Linked DNA regions of Homo sapiens. The protein of the gene in region 3 interacts with the protein of the main gene of each other region in a pairwise test. Each region holds a gene or a part of one and is shown on either strand. Other genes may lie near its edges. The genes, in order: PRR19, MAPK1IP1L, PDCD6 and KDR.

Region 1 (3,381 bases), on a different chromosome or scaffold from region 3:
CCAGGAGACGGAGGTTGCAGTAAGCCGAGATTGCGCCACTGCGCTTCAACCTGAGTGACAGAGTGAGACTCTATCTCAAAAAAAAAAAAAAAAAAAAAAAAAAGCTGGATTCGGTGGCCCACACCTGTAGTCCCAGCTGCTAGGGAAGCTGAGGTAGGAGGATCACTTGAGCCCAGGAGTTGGAGGTTACTCTGAGCTATGATTGCATCACTGTGCCCCAGCCTGGGCAAGAGAGTGAGACCTTGTCTCTTAAAAGAGAGAGAGAAGATGAGAGAAAATAAGTGAGCAGAGAGAGATTGGAAAAGGTTTGGTCAGATAAGGAATCACAGGGGTAAGATGAAGTCGAAGGAGTCACAGCTAATGGGAAGATAAGCCAGGAAACAGAGAGAGGCTATTAGGAACAGGGACATGGGGAAACAGTTAAAAGATGGAGGGTGAGCCGGGCGCGGTGACTCACACCTGTAATCCCAGCACTTTGGGAGGCCGAGGCGGGCGGATCACCAGGTCAGGAGATGGAGACCATCCTGGCTAACACGGTGAAACCCCATCTCTACTAAAAATACCAAAAATTAGCCGGGCGCGGTGGCGGGCGCCTGTAGTCCCAGCTACTCGGGAGGCTGAGGCAGGAGAATGGCGTGAACCCAGGAGGCGGAGCTTGCAGTGGGCCGAGATCGCGCCACTGCACTCCAGCCTGGATGACCGAGCGAGACTCCATCTCAAAAAAAAAAAAAAAAAAAAAAAAAAAAGATGGAGGGTGGGGGCCAGGCGCAGTGGCTCACGCCTGTAGTCCCAGCACTTTGGGAGGCCGAGGTGGGTAGATCATTTGAGGTCAGGAGTTCGAGACCAGCCTGGGCAACATGTGAAACCTCGCCTCTACTAAAAATACAAAAATTAGCCGGCGTGGTGGTGAATGACTGTAATCTCACCTACTCAAAGAGGCTGAGGCAGGAGAATCGCTTGAAATCGGGAGGCGGAGGTTGCAGTGAGCCGAGATCGCGCCACTGCACTCCAGCCTGGGGGACACAACGAGACTCTGTCTCAACAACAACAACAACAACAACAACAACAAAAGATGGAGGGTGGTGAAGGGGTCATGAGATTGGAGGGATTTGGGGGACCAGAAAGTGATTCTGGACGGAGAAATCCAGGGGTAGACGAGGTACAGGGGAATGCAGAAAGTGGAAAGAGATAGTAGAGAAAGAGAAGCAGGAGAGGGAGAGCAGCAAGAGAAGTCTGGAAAGCCTGAGAAAACCTCAAGAGAACAGGAAGGGAGACAGAGGCGCGATCAGGGACAGGGCCTGATCACAAAGGAAGGGCCTAGGGTAGGAGAGGAAGCATGGTGGCCAGCCGCGGTAGGGCAGGGTGGGCAGAGTGAAGGGAGTGGGGTACGGTTGGCAGGAGCAGGGTGTGGGAAGGGCACCTCTCTCGCCCCAACGAACCCCGGCCCTTCCCACTTCACGTAGCTGTGGGGCGCAATGGCTTCTTTTCCGCGGTGACCCCAGCTCTCGAAGTCACCTGGCGCTGTTCCGGGCCTCGGGCTCCCCCACACGCATGCGCGTGCCCTTTCCATGCCCTTTGGCTTCGTGGCTCTGAGAGGACGGAAACCTAGCGGCGCGTGCCAGGGAAGCGCCGGTTATAGCCCCTCCCCTCCCAGCCTCAATTTCAGAAATCTCCCTTTCTTGGTCTCAGCACCTCCCAGCCCTCAATTGGCTGTGAGGTTCACTAGGTCCGCCCCCTTCCTGAATGCTGATTGGTTCAGATAGCTATCAGCGGTCTTTCGAGGGCTAGTTGAGACCAGGCGTGCCAAAGGGAAGAAGGGTCATGGTAGCCCCCATGCACAGCTGTCCCCCAAGCAGCCACAGACATAATCCCTAGAAAACTTATACAGTTGGCCGGGCGTGGTGGCTCACGTCTGTAATCCCAGCACTTTGGGAGGCAGAGGCAGGAGGCTGGCTTGAGCCCAAGAGTTCAAGACCACCCTGGACAACATAGGGAGACCCTGACTACAAAAAATAAATTAGCTTTGGGCGTGGTGGCTCACGCCTGTAATCCCAGCACTTTGGGAGGCCGAGGTGGGCGGATCACGAGGTCAGGAGATCAAGACCATCCTGGCTAACACGGTGAAACCCCGTCTCTACTAAAAATACAAAAAATTAGCCGGGCGTGGTGGCGGGCGCCTGTAGTCCTAACTACTCGGGAGGCTGAGGCAGGAGAATGGCGTGAACCCGGGAGGCGGAGCTTGCAGTGAGCCGAGATGCATTTCAGCCTGGGCGACAGAGCGAGACTCCGTCTCTAAATAAATAAATAAGCTGGGCGCAGTGGCTCTTGCCTGTGGGCCCAGCTACTTGGGAGGCTGATGCAGGAGGATCACTTAAGCCTAGGAGGTGGAGGCAGCAGTGAGCCATGATCACGCCCGCCTGAGGGAGACGGCAAGACCCTGTAAAAGAACAAAAATTAGGCCACATGCATTGGCTCACGACTGTATATTCAGCGACTCAGCAGGCTGGGGCAGGAGAATTGCTTGAACCTGGGAAGTGGAGGATGCAGTGAGCCGAGATCACACCACTGCATTCCAGCCTGGGTGACAGAGAAAGACTCCATCTCAAAAAAAAGTTAGTGTAGTGTTGTGATTCATAGCTAGGCTTGGTTTAAATGCCCAAAATGGCACAACTGGGCTGTGTGACCTTGGAAATGTTTGTAACTGGTCAGACTTAGTTTTCTGACCTGTAAAATTGGGTTGGTAATAAAACTACCTTCCTCATTTGGTTGCTAGAAGGATAAACTAGACCAATATGTCTAACTTGAAATGGGCCTGGTGAATGAAGAATGCCTGGAAGCTTTGTTTCTCACTAAGCTTTGCTTCAGGAACTGCTCCAACTTATCCTCTAAGACTTTATTTTTAAAAATTTTTTTCTCGGTTGGGTATGGTGGCTCACGCCTGTAATCCCAGCACTTTGGGAGGCCAAGGCAGGTAGATCACGAGGTCAGGAGATCGAGACCATCCTGGCTAACACAGTGAAACCTCTTCTCTATTAAAAATACAAAAAATTAGCCGGGCGTGGTGGCACACGCCTGTAGTCCCAGCTACTCAGGAGGCTGAGGCAGGAGAATCGCTTGAACCTGGGAGGCAGAGGTTGCAGTGAGCCGAGATCGCGCCATTGCAGTCCAGCCTAGGCGACAGAGCGAGACTCTATCAAAAAAAAAAAAAATTCTCTCTTATATCACTGACTTGAAGGCATAATTAAGACTTTTTTCTTTTCTTTTCTTTTCTTTCCTTTTCTTTTTGAGATGGAATTTAAATCTGTCACTGAGGCTGGAGTGCAGTGGCACAGTCTGAACTCACTGCAACCTCCACCTCCCGGGTTCAAGCGATTCTCCTGC
Region 2 (3,790 bases), on a different chromosome or scaffold from region 3:
AAAAAAGAAAAGAAATGAAGGAAGAAAGAAAAATTTCAAAATCAGTGTTCACCATTTCTTAAATATTCCTTAAGGAACTTTCTATGCATACATTATTATTACTTAAGCGGAATCTTATTTATGTAATGTGTTTTTCTTTACATAGGAAAGTTTTCCATAATAGTTCATACAGCTCTATTAACTTCATCCCTTTTAATGGCTGCACATCATACAAAAATGATTTGCAATTTAATTTACCTTCTTTTTGTAGCAGTATAAGTTGTTTTAAGTATGATACAGTGAACATCTCTCAACACTTCTTTGTTTGTGTGTGAGAATCTAACACCAGGAAAAAGCACTGGACATGGAATTTAGAGTCAACAGATAAATTTATCTAAAATCCATTTGAAAAGTCCATGCCAATTTACACTCATTTCTCTAACTCCTTTTACCACTGGATATTATTAAATTTATTGTTTATAATGACAATAGATATTAAAAATTAGCGTCTTATTTTAACTTACATTTCCTCGTCTTTTTTTTGGAGACAGGGTCTCATTCTGTCACCCAGGCTGGAGTGCAGTGGCGAGAGAGATCACAGCTCACTGCAATCTTGACCTCCTGGGCTCAAGTCATCTTCTTGCCTCAGTCTCCCTAATAGCCGGTACTACAGGTGTGTGCCATCATGCCCAGCAAATTTCTTAAAATTTTAAAAATTTATTGCAGAGACAGGTGTCTCACTATGTTGCCCAGACCCGGTCTCAAACTCCTGGGATCAAAGGACCCTCCTGCCTCAGCCTCCCAAAGTATTGGGATTATAGCCATGAGCCACTGTGTGTACTCCCAAATTTAAATTTATTGATGTCCTGGAGTACTTTTACCAATTTTTAAATTGAAGTGTAATTAGCACTCAACAAAATGCAGAGATCTTAAGTGTTCAGATTAACAAGCTCTGATAATTGTATACGCCCCTATAACCACCCCAAGATACAGAACATTTCTCACTCCAGAAAGTTTACTCATGCTCTTTTCCAATCAACTACCTTGCCTCATGGCAGTCAATTTTTGACTTAATTTTGCTTGTTCTTTGACTTTATATAAATAAAAGACTGTAGGTACTCTTTGCCTTTGATCATTTTATTACTCAGTAGCACATCTTTTTCTCTCACTGCTTTGTAAGATACTAAGCAGACTAGCTTTCATATATGAGATTAAAATTTTTTGGCCGGGTGCAGTGGCTCACGCCTATAATCCCAGCACTTTGGGAGGCCGAGGCAGGCGGATCACGAGGTCAAGAGATCGAGACCATCCTGGCTAACACGGTGAAACCCCGTCTCTACTAAAAATACAAAAAAACGATTAGCCCAGTGTGGTGGCGGGTGCCTGTAGTCCCAGCTACTTGGGAGGCTGAGGCAGGAGAATGGCATGAACCTGGGAGGCGGAGCTTGCAGTGAGCCGAGATTGCGCCACTGCACTCCAGCCTGGGCAACGGAGGGCTACTCCATATCAAAAAAAAAAAAAAAAAAAAAAAAAAAAAAAAAAATTTCTCCAAAATTCCTTTTATCTGTAGATCTCTTAAAGGGCATATTTTGGTTATACAAAAGTTTTAAATTTCATGTCATCAAATCTATCAATGTTTTCCTATACGTGGCTTCTGGATTTTGTGATATATTTACAAAGGCCTTCCCTACTCTGCCTTGCTTTCATATAGTATTTTTATGGTTTAACTTCTTGTTTAAAACCTTTAAATTCTTCCAAACAATAATTATCAACTATCTATCTTTTCTCAGCTAATTGGACAAGCTACCTTTACTACACTATACTGCTGCCATTTATAACTAGCATCTATCCAATATTTACCATGAAACATGGAACATGGTGGTGTACTGTGCACCACCTCACTTGGTAGCTCCAGAACCCAGATACAAATTTTATTTTCACCCCCAGTTTACAGCTGGAGAAGAGGAAGCTTGGCAAGTTAACTTGTTTAAGGTCCCAGAGCTAATGACAAGGAGAGAAGCAGTTCAAACCCAGTATGACTCCAGAACTTAGGCTCTTAACAAGCAGGCTATAGAGCCTCCTTCATTTCCCACAGATATTGTGGACTTTATTCTTTTCTTTTTGAAACAGTCTTGCTTTGTTCCCTGGCCAGAGTGCAGTGGCACCATCATAAGCTCACTGCAGACTCGACCTTCTGGGCTCAATCGATCCTGCCCAGCTAGTTTTTTTGTAGAGATGGAGTTTCACCATGTTGCCCAGGCTGGTCTTGAACTCCGGAGCTCAAGTGATCTGCCTGCCTCGGCCTCCCAAAGTCTTGGGATTACAGGCGTGAGATACTGTGCCCAGCTGACTTTATTCTTTTCTACTGGTCTGCAACTGTACCATTCCATTTTAATTACAGAAGCTTTACAATATATTTTAAATAAACATTAATGTGAGTCACCCTACTGTCTTTTTTTTTTTTTTTTTTTTCAGATTTTCCTATGTATTTTTATTTTTTCCAGATCGTTAAAAAAAAAAATTAATGTGTTAGCATTCTGGTTGGAAATGTATTATATTTACAGATTAATCTAGGGGAACATCTATTTAAAATGTCAAATCATCTCGTTCAAGAACAAGGTATAGTATAGTCCCTCGGTACCTGAGGGAGATTGGTTCTAGGACCCCCATAGATACTCAAATCCCAGGATGCTCAAGTACCTGATATAAAATGGTGTAGTATTTGCATATAACCTATGCACATCTTCCCGTATAAATCATCTCTATATTATTTATAATACTTAAAAGTGTGAATACTATATAATTATATTAACTTATATTTTCTATGGTTATTTTTATTGTTTCCCCCAAGTATTTTTTTTTTTTTGAGACAGGGTCTCACTCTGTTGCCCAGGCTAGAGTGCAATAGCATGATGTCAGCTCACTGCAACCTCCATCTCCTGGGTTCAAGAGATTCTCCTGCCTCAGCCTCCTGAGTAACTGGGATTATAGGCAAGCGCCGCCATGCCCGGCTAATTTTTTGTATTTTTAATAGAGACAGGGTTTCACCACGTTGGCCAGGCTGCTCTTGAACTCCTGGCCTCACGTGATCCGCCCGCCTCAGCCTCCCAAAGTGCTGGGATTACAGGCATGAGCCACCGCACCCGGCTCCCTGAATATTTTCTACCCGCAAATGCAGACACAGAGGACTGTTTAGTTCCTGTCCTTTTCATGTAGTTTATTTTCTTGATCAGATCTCCTATATACATTTCTTTTAAGGGATTTCTGTTAAACTTTTCCCTGTGGTTGTAAATAGGCTCTTTTCTTCTACTGTATTTTCTAATTGTTCGTTCATATATGGGACAGGGTTTTAAAATTTTAGTCTATAGCAGGTCCTCGAAAGACGTTTCATTCAACTTTGTTTTGTTATAATGTTGATGAGAAGAAAAAACAAAAAGTCTCAGCTGAGGTCACTGTCTGTGTGAAGCTGGCTCATTCTCCCATCTTTATGGGTCTTCTCCAAGTACTCCAGTTTCCTCCCATATCCCAAAGATGCACATGAATGGATGTGTCTACGCGGCCCAGTCTGTGAGCGTGGGTGTAGGTGAGAGCACCCTGTGCTGGGATGGCGTCCAGTTCAGGGCTGGTTCCCAACTTGGACTCTGAATTGCCAAGAAAGGCTCCAGCCATTGAGACCCTGAACTGGAAGAGGGAGGCAAATAATTATCTTTTTATTAATCTTTCTTAAATGTATACACAGCTCACATTCATTCAATTTTTTTTTGAGACAGGGTCTTGCTCTGTCACCGAGGCTGGAGTGCAGTGGTGTGAT
Region 3 (3,790 bases):
CTGGTTCTCCAGCTGCACGACCCTCAATCTAAAACATCAGCTCCTCTCCGGATCTCCAGCTGTAGGGCCCTCAAACTAGAACCTCAGCCCCTCCCCGAGTCTTCAGCTGCACAACCATCAAACTAGAACCTCAGCTCCTCCCTGTGTCTCCAGCTCCACAACCCTCAAACTAGAACCACACCAGTTCCTCCCTGGTCTCCAGCTCTACGACCCACCAATTAAAATAACATCAGCTCCTCACAGATCTCCATCTGCATGACCCTCAAACTAGAACACCTCTCCCACCTGGATCTCCAGCTCCACGACCCTCACAGAACAGCCAAACCAGCTCCTTCACTGTCTTCAGCTCCACAACCTAAGACATCAGTGGCAGCACCAGCTCTTCCCTGGACCTCCAGCTCAACGACTCTCATAGACTTAAAAGGCAGCACCGGCTCCTCCCCAAGGCTCCATCTCCACCACCTTCAGATTTGAACAGCGATAGCACCAGCTCCTCTCCAGGTCTTCAGCCCCAAGACCCTCCCTGACCAATCCCTTCTTACGAAATTCAGCAGTCAAGAAAACTGCAGCAGAAGTAAATGAATAAATGTTTTGTTTTCAAATCGATGTCTCTTTTATGTTCATGAGTTAACTTTTCTACTTTCCATTAGCCTTGCAATCTACTTATGTCCAATGTGAAACAGAAACACACCATTTGAAATCACGTTTAAAAACTTAGTAGTATTTTTAAAGAAAATCACCACACAGCTGTAGATGCGATCTTATTTCTCTCTGCCTGTGCAGAAGTCTTATGAAAATTCGAACTATGAATTTACTTTGTTGAGATTCCCAGAATACACATTAATCCCAACTGTTACTCCCCTCCTTAAAATCTTTTAACATATTCCCATCACTTGAGCATAAATGCCAGCTCCCATCCACAGCCCAAAGTGCCCAGCACGGCCCTGCCCTCTACCCTGGTCTATGGTCTCCCCTCTTAAATGCCAGCTCCCATCCACAGCCCAAAGTGCCCAGCACGGCCCTGCCCTCTGCCCTGGTCTATGGACTCCCCTCTTAAATGCCAGCTCCCATCCACAGCCTACAGTGCCCTCACAGCCCTGCCCTCTGCCCTGGTCTATGGACTCCCCTCTTAAATGCCAGCTCCCATCCACAGCCTACAGTGCCCTCACAGCCCTGCCCTCTGCCCTGGCCTGTGGTCTCCACTCTGGTGCCTGGCCCAGCCCTCCCCACCCCTCTGCCCTGGCTTATGGTCTCCCCTCTTAAATGCCAGCTCCCATCCACAGCCCACAGTGCCCAGCACAGCCCTGCCCTCTACTTCGGTCTATGGTCTCCCCTCTTAAATTCCAGCACCATCCACAGCCCACAGTGCCCGGCACAGCCCTGCCCTCTGCCCTGGTCTATGGTCTCCCCTCTTAAATGCCAGCACCATCCACAGCCCACAGTGCCCAGCACAGCCCTGCCCTCTGCTCTGGCCTAAGGTCTCTCCCCTGTGCTGTTCCCTTCCTGCCGGACAGGCCTCTATCCGTTCCTCAAACCACACAGGCTCAGGCCTGACTCCAGGCCTTTGCCCTGCTGTGCCCTCTGCCTAGGGTGCCTTTCCCGGGCTCTGCATCCTCCTCTCAACCCGCTGAGCTCCAGCCTGCTGGTCGCCCCTCAGGTGGATGAACACATGGTGTCCTCTCGCCCCGCTGGCTTTTGCACAGGCTCTTCTCTGTGCCAGACACAAACCCTCTCTATCGGGGTTTACTCTCTAAATACCATTCGTCCTTGGAGTCTCCACTGAAATATCGCTCCCTGCCCACCCCCCTCCCTTGGACTTAACCTTGGTTAGGTTGCCAACCCCCGTCTCCTGACTCCGGGAAGCTAGATGCTCTCCTAGCACTCGGAACTTGCCCATCGCCACATTTTGCACACCCGTGATTACTGGGTTAGGTTGGCGCACAAGTCATCGCAGTTTTTGCCATTACTATTAATGAACTGCAGCACCGGCTCCTCGTTTTTTTTTTTTTTTTTTTTTTTGCCATTACTTTTAATGACTGCTGCACCAACCTATTAGAATCATTTATATTTATTCATCCATCATCTGCCTTCCCCTCTAGAAAGGAAGCTCCATGAGAATAGAGGCCAAATCTACTCAAATAACTCCACCTTCCCACACATTGTCAATAATCATTTACCAACTGACTGATAGAGAAATGCCTTCCCTGTTGCTGGGATGAGGCACATGACACGCCCCTTTGAAAGTCACTGTCATGGACAGTTGGCATTTGCTCTTCACTGCTGCACCCGTGGCGTGGCTGGGCTTAGGCTGATCTAGTCTGGCCTTGACTCTAGGCTGAGGGTGGGAACCATGCCTGCTCCACACGCCTCTCATTCCACAGCCAGAGCCGCCGTTCCCTGGGGCACGCATATCTCGTGGGGAAAATCAAGAGCCTAAGAGGGCAGGCCTGGCAGTGCCACACATTCCAGGCTTCTGCTTGTGCCGTGTCTGTGAAAATCTCGTTGGCAGAAGCAAGTCACCCAGCCACAAGCAACACCTATAAGTCCATCCACCCTCCCTCCGGCCCTGGCAAGGATGCGGCTGCGTCATACTCTTAGGGGGGAATGAAAAACTGAGGCCCAAAATTAAATCACCCATGGCAAGAAATGTCAGTCTCTGTGTCCCCACACTGGAATTCTTCTTCACCAGCGGGTTTGCCTGAGCTGACTTCCCTTTGCAATGGTGTCTGCAGGTTTAGGCCAATGCTGTTCCCCATGGAGGACAGAGAAGCCTCAACGGGCCTCTCTGTTGGGAAGAACAAGATATTAGCTTGGCGCGAAACAACCGCAAGCCACAGGTGGCCCACACCCCGTGAGACAGGAGAGGGGCAGAGAACTGTGGGAACTCAGGAAAGCTTGCATCCCTAGCCCCTCCCATGTCCCCAGCCCCTCCCGTGTCCCCAGCACCCTCCCCCGCATCCCCAGCACCCTCCTGTGTCCCCAGCACCCTCCCCTGCATCCCCAGCACCCTCCCCTGTGTCCCCAGCCCTCTCCCCTGCTTGCCCCATCTCTTTCTTTTTTTCATTTTCTTTCTTTCCTTTTGTTTTATTTGAGACAGGGTCTGGCTCTGTCACCCAGGCTGGAGTGCAATGGCACGATCTCGGTTTACTGCAACCTTCACCTCCTAGGCTGAAGCAATTCTCCCTCCTCAGCCTCCCCAGTGGCTGGGACTACAGATGCACGCCACCATACCCAGCTAAATTTTTTTTTTTTTTTTGGGAGAGACAGGATCTGCCATGTTGCCCAGGCTGGTCTCAAATTCCTGAGCTCAAGTAATCCTCCCACCTCAGCCTCCCAAAGTGCTGGGATTACAAGCATGAGCCACCGAGTCCAGCCTGCTTTATTTTTCTCTACAGTACTTGGAATCTTCTAATATACTAAGGACACGTGTATTTTCTTTCTGTCTTCCCTAGAACAGGAGCTTAATGTGGGCAGGTATTTTTGTTGATCTCATTTATCACCCTATCCCCAGTGCCTGGACAGGGTCTGGCACATGAATGGTGTGTTCTAAATAAATATTTTTAATAGATAAATAAATGAAATATCCTACAAGAGAAAGCTATATCTGGAACTCACCCACCAACAGAACCTAAAAGCCAAAGACCTTTAGCCTGTCTCTGCCTCTGAACACACCCAACCCCGGAGGAGCCAGCAGAGGAAAAAGAGGACAAAGGTGGGGAAGGGAGCAGGTGGTGCCCACCAAGTAAGGAACCCTGAGGCTTAGGCGGAACCTGAGCTGGAGAAGGGACTC
Region 4 (3,790 bases), on a different chromosome or scaffold from region 3:
GTCACTCAGTTAACGAACGGCAAAACCTGGAACAAACCTAGACACTCTGACTTCTGAACCCAAACACGTAAACCACCTCATGTTAAAGGAAGGTGTAAATCTTTAGAGAATGCATTCCTGCCACCATCATCTGAGTTTTTCATTCTCTCTCCCTCTTCCTCCCTCCCTCCCTCTCCACTCCCTTTCCCTCTTCCCCTTTCTTCCTTCTCCCTTCTCTCACTTCCTTCTTTCTTCTCTCCCTTTTTCCTTTCTTTCTTTTTTGACTCCAAAGTCAAAACTATTTCCTTATTACTGTCAACCTAAAGCCTCAGATTATGCTTTGAAGACTTGACTTCTTTTTTATGTTTATTTCATATAGCAGAGAATTTGCTAAAGTGAATAAAATATTTAGTGGCTTCATGAACTGATGAAATGGGCTATTTGCTGTCCGTGTTTTGTTTTTATTTCCTGTTCATTTCCTCCTCCCATCCTACTTATACACTTTCCAGTTTCTCCTCTCCCCAGTCCCCTACACCTATGCTGCTTCTAAACAACCTTTTTGGAACCTGTTAACTTTTTTTTTGAGACGGAGTTTTGCTCTTGTCACCAGGCTGGAGTACAATGGTGCGATCTCGGCTATCTGCAACCTCCACCTCCTGGGTTCAAGTGATTCTCCTGCCTCAGCCTCCCAAGTAGCTGGGATTACAGGTGCCCACCACCATGCCTGGCTAATTTTTATATTTTTAGTAGAGACGGGTTTTCATCATGTTGGCCAGGCTGGTCTCGAACTCCTGACCTCAGGTGATCCATCCGCCTCGGCCTCCCAAAGTGCTGGGATTACAGATGCAAACCACGGCACCCAGCCTATCTTTAAAATATTCCCTGAAAAAAAATAATAAAGCCAAGTTCAGCGGCCTACAGAAGAGTATCAGGACACGTAGGGAAGCACCTTAATGTCATGGGAAAATATCCTGAAGTTTTAATATGCCGTACCAGAAGGGGGAACAAAGAATTACAACAGAGAAGCATTTCTCAAACTGTTTGGAGTGAGAGATTAATGAATTTGCTCAGGGGAAAAAAGGTGCTCTGGTCAAATAGGTTTGTTAAACCTTGAATACTCTATGTCTCTCCTCCTGGAGAATACCAATATACATTAGCATATAAAAGGTTCTGCGAAGTCCTGCAATAAAGAAACCTGTTACACATCTACACATCACCTTAGCACCTCTCACACTCACTTGACCATGGCACCCTTCTCCCCACTCCATTCCAAACACTTATTTGTACCTTTCAGTTTCAGAAAACAAAGTTCAAATTATCTTTACATCAAAAACTTACTATCTTTCCTTTACAGACTCAAAATCAGATCCTGAACTCCTGTCAAAAAGGAAAAAAGAAAAGCTCCCAACCAAGCCAACAGTGTCAACTTCAAAAGCCTTCAGAGTTGGAACGTGCCTGCACATCTCTGATACATCAACTACAACATCAAACTAGAAGCTTTGCACAAAATCTAAGGAGAAGGGTCTTACACATCTGTGTACCAGGTGGGCAATTCCATGAGAGGGGAACATGGTAGTATAACTTAGCTTGACAACTGTCCCTGTGGGCATTCTTATTTCACAACATTTAGCTATCGAGGGTATCACTACTTTAATCTTGCATTTGTCCACCACAAAGCTCATTTACACGGCCTCTTAAACAAACATGGCCAGAGCACATGGTCCTACGTTTCACTTCAGCTTCACCACGCCAGATGACTTTTGTACGCAGGCCCAGCCATGATATGAGTGAAGCAGCAGGAGGCAGAGGAACGGTGGTTTGGCTGATTTGGAAGACAATGTATCATAATAAATCTTGGGCAGAGAGGAAAATTGAATGGACTCACCATACACAACCAGAGAGACCACATGGCTCTGCTTCTCCTTTGAAATGGGATTGGTAAGGATGACAGTGTAATTTCCTGTGTCTCTTTCACTCACTTCCATAATCGTCAGTACATGCCCCGCTTTAATTGTGTGATTGGACTCAAGGGGTATTCCATTTTTATACCTATGAAAAAAAATTCTCAGGAATTAGTATAGTCAAAGGATTTGCTCTCACACGAAATGATGCTTTGCATTTATTTCCAGTAGTTACCATTTTATTTCTGGGGGTGGGTAACCAAGGTACTTCGCAGGGATTCTGACACGCTCCCCCACCGTGGCTTCCACCAGAGATTCCATGCCACTTCCAAAAGCAACAAAAGGTTTTTCTGGAAGAAAATAAAAAAAAAAAAAGGTCAACTTACTGTAAATGGTCATTTGATTTAGTTTTTCATTTCAAGTGAAACGTCAAAGACCTTGAGGGTCTGAGTAGCTGCAGTTCCAAGATTTCCTGTACTATCTTTCAGTGGGTCACTTTTCAGCTTCTCCCACACCTCCCGTGTTTCTCCCACACCTCCTGTGTTTGCATTTGCTTTTCTCTCCCCGCTAGTGCACTCCCACAAGCCTAGTGATTGCTCAAGTCTCAACTCAAACACTTGCTCCTCTGTGCAGCTTTCTCTAAGTCCCCCAGGGATGCTTGGGTGCTCCTTCTCCTCTGCTCCCATGACAGCCTCCACACACCTCTTCCACCATGAGGCCCCAGGACTCAGTCCTCAGACCTCCTCTTTATTTACACCTTCCTCTAGCCTCAGGTTTAAAGTATCATTCACGTACCTCCTAAATGTGTTATCTTCTGCCCTGACTCCTCTGGGTTCCGGGTTGATATGTTAAATATCTCCACTTGGATGTTTAACAGGCATCTCCAGATAAACATATCTAACACTGTTTCCCTAAATCTCACTGCCTTCTCGATCTTTGCCATCTCAGTAAATAACACCATCATTTACTCAGTTGCTCATGCTAACGCTCGAGTCATCTTCCACTCTTTTTCTCTTATACTCCACAACCAATGAATTGATCAGCGGACCCTGTTGACTCTACCTTCAAAATATATCCAGAAGCAGATCACCTCTCACTACCTCCACCTCAACTACCCTTGTCTAAGCCACCCCTCAACTCTCACTTGGATAACTGCAATTAGCCTCCCAACTGACCTCCTTATTTCTGCCCCTATTTCCCTGAAGTATTCTGGAAAACAAAAGTAATTCTATAAAAACATAAGCCAGAGCACATCTCTCTCTGTGTATTTTGACAAGTGCATCTTGGCAAGTGAAATAATTTAAATAAATTTAGGACACTTAGTGATTTCTATTTTGTTCATTCAGAAGAAATTTTCAAGTTCTTGCTAGGGATGCCACGTGACCTAGAGGTCAAGAGCATAGCTTTGTAGTCAGGAACTTGAGTTCCAATCTCAGCTTCAAAGATGAGATGAGCTAATAAAGTAAGTGCTCACTAAATCATACTTGTTATAGTTGTTGCCACTTTTATGATTACAACTCTAATAAATAGCATTATCTAAGGTATTTTTAAAATTTCACTGTATTGATGCATTCTCATAATATAAACTCCAAAATCCTTTCCAAGGCTTATAAGTAGGATGCCACACAAATTACCATGTAAACTCAGACATTTATGTAAATGAAAGAGAATAAACAAAAAATTAAGGTGATTTTCTCAAGGCCAGTTCAATTTAATTCCAGTTCAATTACAGTTGACCCTTAAATAACACAAACTTGAACTACATGAGTCCACTTATAAGCAGATTTTCTTCCACCTCTGCCACCCCTGAGACAGCAAAACCACCCCCTCCTCTTCCCCCTTTTCCTCAGCCTACTCAACGTGAAGACAAGGATGAAGACCTTTATGATGATCCACTTACACTTAATGAA

Evidence for each region.
Region 1: the proteins of PDCD6 (region 3) and PRR19 interact in binary tests that used the Homo sapiens proteins (3 or more experiments, as listed by UniProt).
Region 2: the proteins of PDCD6 (region 3) and MAPK1IP1L interact in a two-hybrid assay, tested with the Homo sapiens proteins (one large-scale study listed by BioGRID and IntAct).
Region 4: the proteins of PDCD6 (region 3) and KDR interact in binary tests that used the Homo sapiens proteins (3 or more experiments, as listed by UniProt).

What each region holds. Positions count from the first base shown.
Region 1 is NC_000019.10:42,305,113-42,308,493, reverse strand, and holds part of PRR19 (proline-rich protein 19), read right to left. Parts: intron 1,638-3,381; exon of another isoform or gene 1,571-1,637; coding exon of another isoform or gene 1,421-1,570; intron 1-1,420. UniProt on the Homo sapiens protein: Promotes meiotic crossing over formation through its interaction with CNTD1 by participating in the crossover differentiation step of crossover-specific recombination intermediates.
Region 2 is NC_000014.9:55,057,887-55,061,676, reverse strand, and holds part of MAPK1IP1L (MAPK-interacting and spindle-stabilizing protein-like), read right to left. Parts: intron 523-3,790; exon of another isoform or gene 506-522; coding exon of another isoform or gene 504-505; intron 1-503.
Region 3 is NC_000005.10:278,013-281,802, reverse strand, and holds part of PDCD6 (programmed cell death protein 6), read right to left. Parts: intron 1-3,790. UniProt on the Homo sapiens protein: Calcium sensor that plays a key role in processes such as endoplasmic reticulum (ER)-Golgi vesicular transport, endosomal biogenesis or membrane repair.
Region 4 is NC_000004.12:55,108,539-55,112,328, forward strand, and holds part of KDR (vascular endothelial growth factor receptor 2 precursor), read right to left. Parts: intron 2,231-3,790; coding exon 2,116-2,230; intron 2,029-2,115; coding exon 1,865-2,028; intron 1-1,864. UniProt on the Homo sapiens protein: Tyrosine-protein kinase that acts as a cell-surface receptor for VEGFA, VEGFC and VEGFD. Plays an essential role in the regulation of angiogenesis, vascular development, vascular permeability, and embryonic hematopoiesis.